2 linked regions of the Homo sapiens genome follow. The protein of the gene in region 1 interacts with the protein of each later gene in a pairwise test. Each region holds a gene or a part of one and is shown in the gene's direction. Other genes may lie near its edges.

Region 1 (3,826 bases):
ATTATCACTATAAATTTTTATTCTAGGCTAAACATTGAGGGATAGACAATTTTAATTACTTTATTTCTAGAAACTGATAGTAGTTATCTTTGTGACTCTCTTCGAGTAGAGTTGACACCAAGTATTTTATTTGCTATATTCAATCCTTAGTAAGAAAGCCATATATTGCCTGTAATATATGATGTTCATCTCAAAACTGTCGTTTGCTCAGTTGCCTGTGTTCCTTTGACCCGGTTGATATAAAGGGCAAGATGATATTGTTCTTCATAGAGAGGCCTTCTTTGTAATATCAAATGGATGCAATTTTTTACATTTAAAAAAAGCAGTTTGTTAATGACATTTTTACATTTATATTCACTTTATTATGACATGTTTTAACTTAAGATCATAAGTAACATTAGATAATATATTAATGTTTTCTATTTCCTCTAGGTTGTGCACCATCTCCAGGTGCTTATGATGTTAAAACTTTAGAAGTATTGAAAGGACCAGTATCCTTTCAGAAATCACAAAGATTTAAACAACAAAAAGGTAATATAGATCACCAAAGAACAATGGTTATGTGATCTTATAAGTTTTAAAGTTATGAATAACAATATTTAAAGATGTTATAGCATTTTTTAAAATGTGAAGCTAGAACTATATTTAAATTTTATTTGATGGATTTATGAAAGGGTCAAGTACAGAATAATGCTGTCATCATTACATTGTTATATAACCAGGAAAATTAAGCAAGATACTTATATTGATATGTAGCTTCCCTTTTGGTAATTACCTTGACTTGTCAGGGAATATTAGGAAAATCAGAAAGGTGTTAGATGTGTAAAAAAATTGTATGAGTAATTATTTGAAAATGTACAACTAAGGAAAGAATATATTGTTTCATCAAAAGTTGTAATTAGAAATTTGGGGCCGGGCAAGGTGGCTCGTGCTCGTAATCCTGGCACTCTGTGAGGCCAAGGTGGGTGGATCACATGAGTTCAGGATTTCGAGACAAGCCTGGCCAACATGGTGAAACCCCATCTCTACTAAAAATACAGAAATTAGCCAGGTGTGGTGGGGTGCGCCTGTGGTTCCAGCTACTAGGGAGGAAAGTGGGAGAGTTGCTTGAAACTGGGAGGCAGAGGTTGCAGTGGGCTGAGATGACACCACTGCAGTCCAGGCTGGGTGACAGTGAGACTGTCTCAAAAAACAAAAACAAACAAAAAGAGAAAGACAAAAAAATTTGGAAATTGTGTTTTGTGTGTAGTTAAAACACATTGACATCAACCATGATCTGTACAATTCATTTTTCCGCAGAATCTAAACAAAATCTTAATGTTGACAAAGATACTACCTTGCCTGCTTCAGCTAGAAAAGTTAAGTCTTCGGAATCAAAGGTGAGGAGCTTTTATATGCCAGCTGGTTTATCAAGTGTATCATCAAAAACATCTGAAAGTATTGTATTTGATTAGAATGGGTTAAGTGTATGAATCAAGGTTATAAGTAAATCTGTAAATTAATGAAATGAGTTATCATTAGAACTCTAGCAAGTTTTACATTTCTGCCTAGGTCATTATGTTTAAATGTGCCCTTAGTTCACAATTATAATGGTCTTCAATTCTCAATCACTTCTATGTTTAAATTGTTCATTACCTAGTAAACATTTCAAAATTATGTGATGCTTTGATTTATTAAGTACCACCATTTGAGTTGTTTTGTTTTTGTGTATTTGTTTGTGGGGAAGGGTAAGTGTTTTTGAAGAAAAGTGGGAAAAAATGCCAATATCTAAGAGAGGTTTGCTACTGAGAAACTGTTAAGGAGTGGTGAGAGATTAAATTCTTAATAGTCTTGTGGCTTGTGCAAGAGCTACTATTACTCTTTTCATAAGTTTATAAACAGGCAAGCTGCATAGTACTTTTTAAATTTTATTTATGTATTTTTTTTTTGAGATGGAGTATCACTCTGTCACCCAGGCTAAAGTGCAGTGGCGCCATCTCAGCTTACTGCAGCCTCTGTCCCCACAGGCTCAAGCGATTCTCCTGCCTCAGCCTCCCCAGTAGCTGGGATTACAGGCACGCCCCACCACGCCCAGTTACTTTTTGTGTTTTTGCTAAAGACGAGGTTTAAACATATTAGCCAGTTGGGCAGGCTAGGCTGGTCTTGAATTCCTGACTTCAGGTGATCAGCCCACTTTGGCCTCCCAAAGTGCTGGGATTACAGGTGTTGTCCACCACACCCAGCCGCCATATAATACTTTTTAAAAGACAGCTGGGGGGCGCACAGTGGTTCACGCCTATAATCCCAGCACTTTGGGAGGCAAGGCAGGTGGATCACTTGAGGTCAGGAGTTTGAGACCAGCCTGGCCAACATGTAGTCAAACCCCATCTCTACTAAAAAATACAAAAATGTGCTGGACGTGGTGGCACGTGCCTGTAGTCCCAGCTACTTGGGAAGCTGAGGCAGGAGAATTGCTTGAACCTGGGAGGCAGAGGTTGCAGTCAGCCAAGGTGGTGCCACTGTACTCCAGCCTGGGCAACAGAGCGAGACTCAGTCTCTCCAAAAAAAAAAAAAAAGACAGCCGGGCACAGTAGCTCACGCCTGTAATCCCAGCACTTTGGGAGGCTGAAGCAGGTGGATTGCTTGAGGTCAAGAGTTCGAGACCAGCCTGACCCACATGGTGAAACCCCGTCTCTACTAAAAATACAAGAAAATTAGCCGTGTGTGGTGGCACGTACCTGTAATCCCAGCTACTCGGGAGGCTGAGGCAGGAGAACTGCTTGAACCTAGGGAGGCAGAGGTTGCAGTGAGCCGAGAGATTGCACCACTGCACTCCAGCCTGGGCAGCAGAGCGAGACCTATCTCAAAGATAAAAATAAAGTAAAAAAGTTGTACAAATTAATAGGTTTTTTGATGTGAAAAATATTCAGAGTTGGAAAAAGGCTTAGGTTGTTCATTCATTTGGCAGTTGCCTAAGCCTCATATTCTGTAATATAGAGCTATGTTGTTCTGTATGGAAGCATAGCCACATGTGTCTATTGAGCAACTGAAATGTGGCTAGTGCTATTAAAGAACTAAATTTTTAATATTTAATTTTAATTAATACATATTTAAAGACATACTCGATTTTGTTAGTGGAACGCTTTTAAATATTTTTGGAACAACTTGAGTATGTGAATTTACTTTCTCCTTTCTATGTTTTATGAAATTAAATATACATAAACATTTCTGATGAAAATTTAGCATTGAATTAAGACGTGCTATAAGTGTAGAATACAAAGAAAACTTTAAAGACTTAGTACAAAAATATAAAACATCTCATTGATAATTTTATACCAATGACATGCTGAAAAAATATATTTGATATGTTGGGTTAAATAAAATATATTAAGATTTTTACTTTTTAAACACACTACTAGAAAAATTTAAATGCATAGGTGGCTTGCATTATTTTTATTGGGCAGGACTATTATAGACACTCTTTTCTTAGAAATTGATGTAAGTGGTTTGACTTAAATTTCTTGAAGAAACTGTTCTGTAATTTTGTAATTTATAAAGCCCCTTAGAAAACTAAATTACATACAAGTTTGTATGGAGCCCCAAAATAATAGTCCTTCCCCATAAAAAATTTCATGGAGTGTGAAATTAATAAACATGACACTGATGTCACCCCCACCTCCTGCCCCACTTAGAAACATCTGAAACAGATTTCATTCAAGATGTTGATGCCTTTCTTCCATTTTTAGATGGAAAAGATATTCTTTTTCTAGCCATTGTGTCAGAAAGTCTGTTGGATATAAAAAGATATAGTGTGAAAATTATATGTCTTATTTAGAATAAAGCCAAT
Region 2 (3,826 bases), on another chromosome or scaffold:
GAAAAAAGAAAAAGAAAGACATTAGACACTATGTCTTCAATAATATACTTATCCTGCTGTTGACCCCGTCAGGGTTCCCACTTCTTATGTCAGTGGTAGAACTTTTGAGGGAGACAGAGAATTACGCATTTCATTAGGTTTTGCAAATGTATTGTACAATTGTGCATAACATTTTCTATTTAAAAATCTCATATCTATTGTTATAGCCCTATCTCATATCTCATTTTTTTAGTGCCTTTTGCTTGTTATTGATTCTATTTGCCTGTTTGTCTATTTTATTGCTTTTTAAATAATGAATTCTGTTATACTGATTATTTTTAATTAAAACAGACCTTCTCTTGTTTGAGGGGTTAGTGTTTTATTTGCTAGTTTTTATGGCTATAGCCTATTTGAATAATCATCTCCAGTTCTTTCCAATTGGAACTTTCTCATTCAAGAGTTTCTTTTTTGGGGGCGTGCAGAGGGGGGTGAGCATCAGGATAAATAGCCAGTGCATGTGGGGCTTAATACCTAGGTGATGGGATGATTTGTGCAGCAAATCACCATGGCACATGTTTACCTATGTAACAAACCTGCACATCCTGCTCATGTACCCCGGAACTTCAATTAAAAAAAAAAAGAAGAAAAAAAAAAAGATTGTATCCTCTACTAAAGGAAGATGGGAAAATGCTGTTTGATTTAATCTGCCATCTCACTAGGTGAGCATCACATTAGTCATTGCTGCTCCTGTCACCTTCTGGTAATGATCATGCTTCATGTATTTTTATTTCCCTGTCATTACTCTCTTGTTTTTTCTCCTGGTTTTACCTAATAGATAAATGCCTTCTAAATGATTTTGTTGTCTCACAGTTTTTTTTTCTGAATATTTAGCCCTGTTTATTCCCAGAAAGGGGCACTTAAAAATACATATGACCCTAATCATGTGAGTGACTTTATCTCAAGGCTAAAGAATAGGCCAGCTGGTGCAGCCACTGCCAAGTGTCACCCAGGGGCCTGGGTGATGGTGGCTATTGCCACCGCACATGACATCAGGGAAGTGGAGGGGAAGCTTAAAGATCCAGTCTCTATGTTGCGGGTTCCCACCCAAATGTAGAGCTGTGGACAGAGGATTGATCAAAAAAAACAAAAACAAGGCTGGACTCAGTGGCTCACACCTGTAATCCCAGCATTTTGGGAGGCCGAGGCAGGCAGATCACCTGAGGTCAGGAGTTTGAGACCAGCATGGCCAATATGGTGAAACCCCATCAGTACTAAATATACAAAAATTAGCTGGGCATGGTAGTGTGTGCCTGTAATCCCAGCTACTCGGGAGGCTAAGGCAGGAGAATCATTTGAACCCAGGATGCGGAGGTTGCAATGAGCCAAGATTGCACCACTGCACTCCAGGCTGGGCAACAGAGTGAGACCCTGTCTCGAAAAAAAAAAAAAAAAAACTAAAGACAAAAAATGTAGGCTATAGAACCCATCTCCATGATAACACATTAGGGTCCTGCCCACATTGAGAGCAGGTGGATTTTCACCTTAGCTTTCTAGATGTGGAACGCAGTCTTTGTCAAGATGGCTTTTTCGTGTAATAAATTTGCAGGGAGGAGTTCTTGGTAATCAATCATCTTCATGAAAGGAGCTCTCCTTGAAACTGATTATAATCGCGCCGAGGCACAGAACTCTGGTGATGGAAACACTCTGTCTCTGTGTTGTTCATTACAGGAGCCAGCAGCCATGTGTGGCTTCTGGGCACTTGGAATGTGGCAGGTGCCACTGAGGATCTGAACTGGTATTTTCACTTGATGTTAATGAATTTAAATGTAAGCATTCGCACAATTATAAATGAAAATGCAATGCCTGTTTGGTGTGACTTTCATCACCAAAACCTCACTCTTTTATTGGAAAAAGTCTCATCCACTCTCACCAGAACCCTCCTTGCCTTTACAGATACACACGCCCTGGTAAGCCTTCTTCAAAATCTGAACAAAGCAAACTACAACCTGCCCATCATGGTGACAGATTCAGGGAAACCACCCATGACGAATATCACAGATCTCAGGGTACAAGTGTGCTCCTGCAGGAATTCCAAAGTGGACTGCAACGCGGCAGGGGCCCTGCGCTTCAGCCTGCCCTCAGTCCTGCTCCTCAGCCTCTTCAGCTTAGCTTGTAAGTTGACCTAACTCCAGTGCATGCACAAACAGGAAATTGTAACTTCACTGGGTTCGTGAAGCCAGCATTTTCCCATATACCTTTCCAAGAAGATGTTTCCCAGAAGAATCATTCATCTTTAGTGTATGTCTGTATGATAGAACATGTTATATGTAAAAGTGCTCCCACTGATGTTTAAAGGCATCTTAACAATCCCTGCCAGCCAGTCTGAGGGATTGTGCAAAGGTGTTCATTGCTAGCCTGCAAACTAGGTGGTAAGCAAAACTTCCTACAGCTGCCACTCAACTTGAGCTAATGAAAATGCGCCCAGATTAGTTAACTAGTCTATCAGAGGCCTGTTTCTCTCTACATTATGCAGAATAATCTTTTGCAAGGTTAAAACAGATATTATGAGACTTTCTGAGAATAGTCGTGAGAATTTATGGATGGAGGGTGGGCTGCAGGGAAAATGATAAATGCATAATTTACACTGTTTTTTCACTGGCTAGTAATAATGACTATAATATCATGAAACATTGTTTTTAACAAATGAATTATTATGCCAAGTAGTATAGATGTGAGGATAAAATTAATAAATACATGTCTCAGATATTCCTTATTTATGAAATACTAGTCCAATGTTAACTTTAGCCGTTATTCATATATAACTGTTACCATCCAAAAGCCTTTTGGGCCTTGCAATTTACCTTTTGAGAACGTATCGGTGTAATTGTGAATTAGGAAGTTGGGAAATTGACAGAAAAAGAAAACAGAAGGTTTTTTATCCTACTGACAGTGGTGAGCTGCCAGGAAATCACATAGTACAACATTGGACATTCACGTATATAAAGCTCTGTGCAAGACCAGAGTCCTGTGAGTAGAAGGAAAAATGAAGGGCCAGGCACGGTGGCTCACACCTATAATCCCACCACTTTGGGAGGTCGAGGTGGGTGGATCATCTGAGATCAGGAGTTCAAGACCAGTCTGGCCAACATGGTGAAACCTTGTGTCTACTAAAAATACAAAAATTAGCCAGCCATGGTGGCACATGCCTGTAGTCCCAGCTACTCGGGAGGCTGAGGCAGCAGAATCACTTGAACCCGGGAGGCGGAGGTTGCAGTGAGCCAAGATCATGCCATTGATCTCCAACCTGGGTGACAGAGCAAGGCTCTGTCTCAAAAAAAAAAAAAAAAAGGAAACAAGAAGCCATTATAGCATTTCACTGGCCCTTCAGACTGGGCATTTCTGAAAGCGAACATATCATCTTCCCCTCCTGACCTGCCCCTCTGCCTGACTTGTCTCTGATGACTGTACCACCACCATCATCATCACCATCATCTCCATGTCTCCTTCCTGGTCTTCCCACTGCAAAGCCCAACAGAGTCTAAGGGTCCAACACTTTCCATCCATCCCTGCCTCCACCCTCCTGTCTCAGGTACTAATGTCACTTAACCTCGATTATCTCACTGGCTTTCTAACTTTATCTTCTGCAAAGAGAGAGAGAAAATAGAAATCAAGAGGCCACCCCTCGGAGGCTTCTCCTGAGTCTTTTCTGTAAAGCAGAGACAATTTCAGATGAAGGGTTAGAGATGGGAGTGGGGACTGAGAAGAAATTAGGAAACCTTGTCAAAGCACAGATAATTCGGCTGTACAGCAATTGGGCTAAACGTTGAGCAGGGGTGGTCCAGAGGAG

Evidence for each region.
Region 2: the proteins of HMMR (region 1) and CDH13 interact in a two-hybrid assay, tested with the Homo sapiens proteins (one large-scale study listed by BioGRID and IntAct).

The regions. Positions count from the first base shown.
Region 1 is NC_000005.10:163,463,424-163,467,249, forward strand, and holds part of HMMR (hyaluronan mediated motility receptor), read left to right. Parts: intron 1-432; coding exon 433-531; intron 532-1,299; coding exon 1,300-1,379; intron 1,380-3,826. UniProt on the Homo sapiens protein: Receptor for hyaluronic acid (HA). Involved in cell motility. When hyaluronan binds to HMMR, the phosphorylation of a number of proteins, including PTK2/FAK1 occurs.
Region 2 is NC_000016.10:83,781,322-83,785,147, forward strand, and holds part of CDH13 (cadherin-13 isoform 1 preproprotein), read left to right. Parts: intron 1-1,932; coding exon 1,933-2,151; intron 2,152-3,826.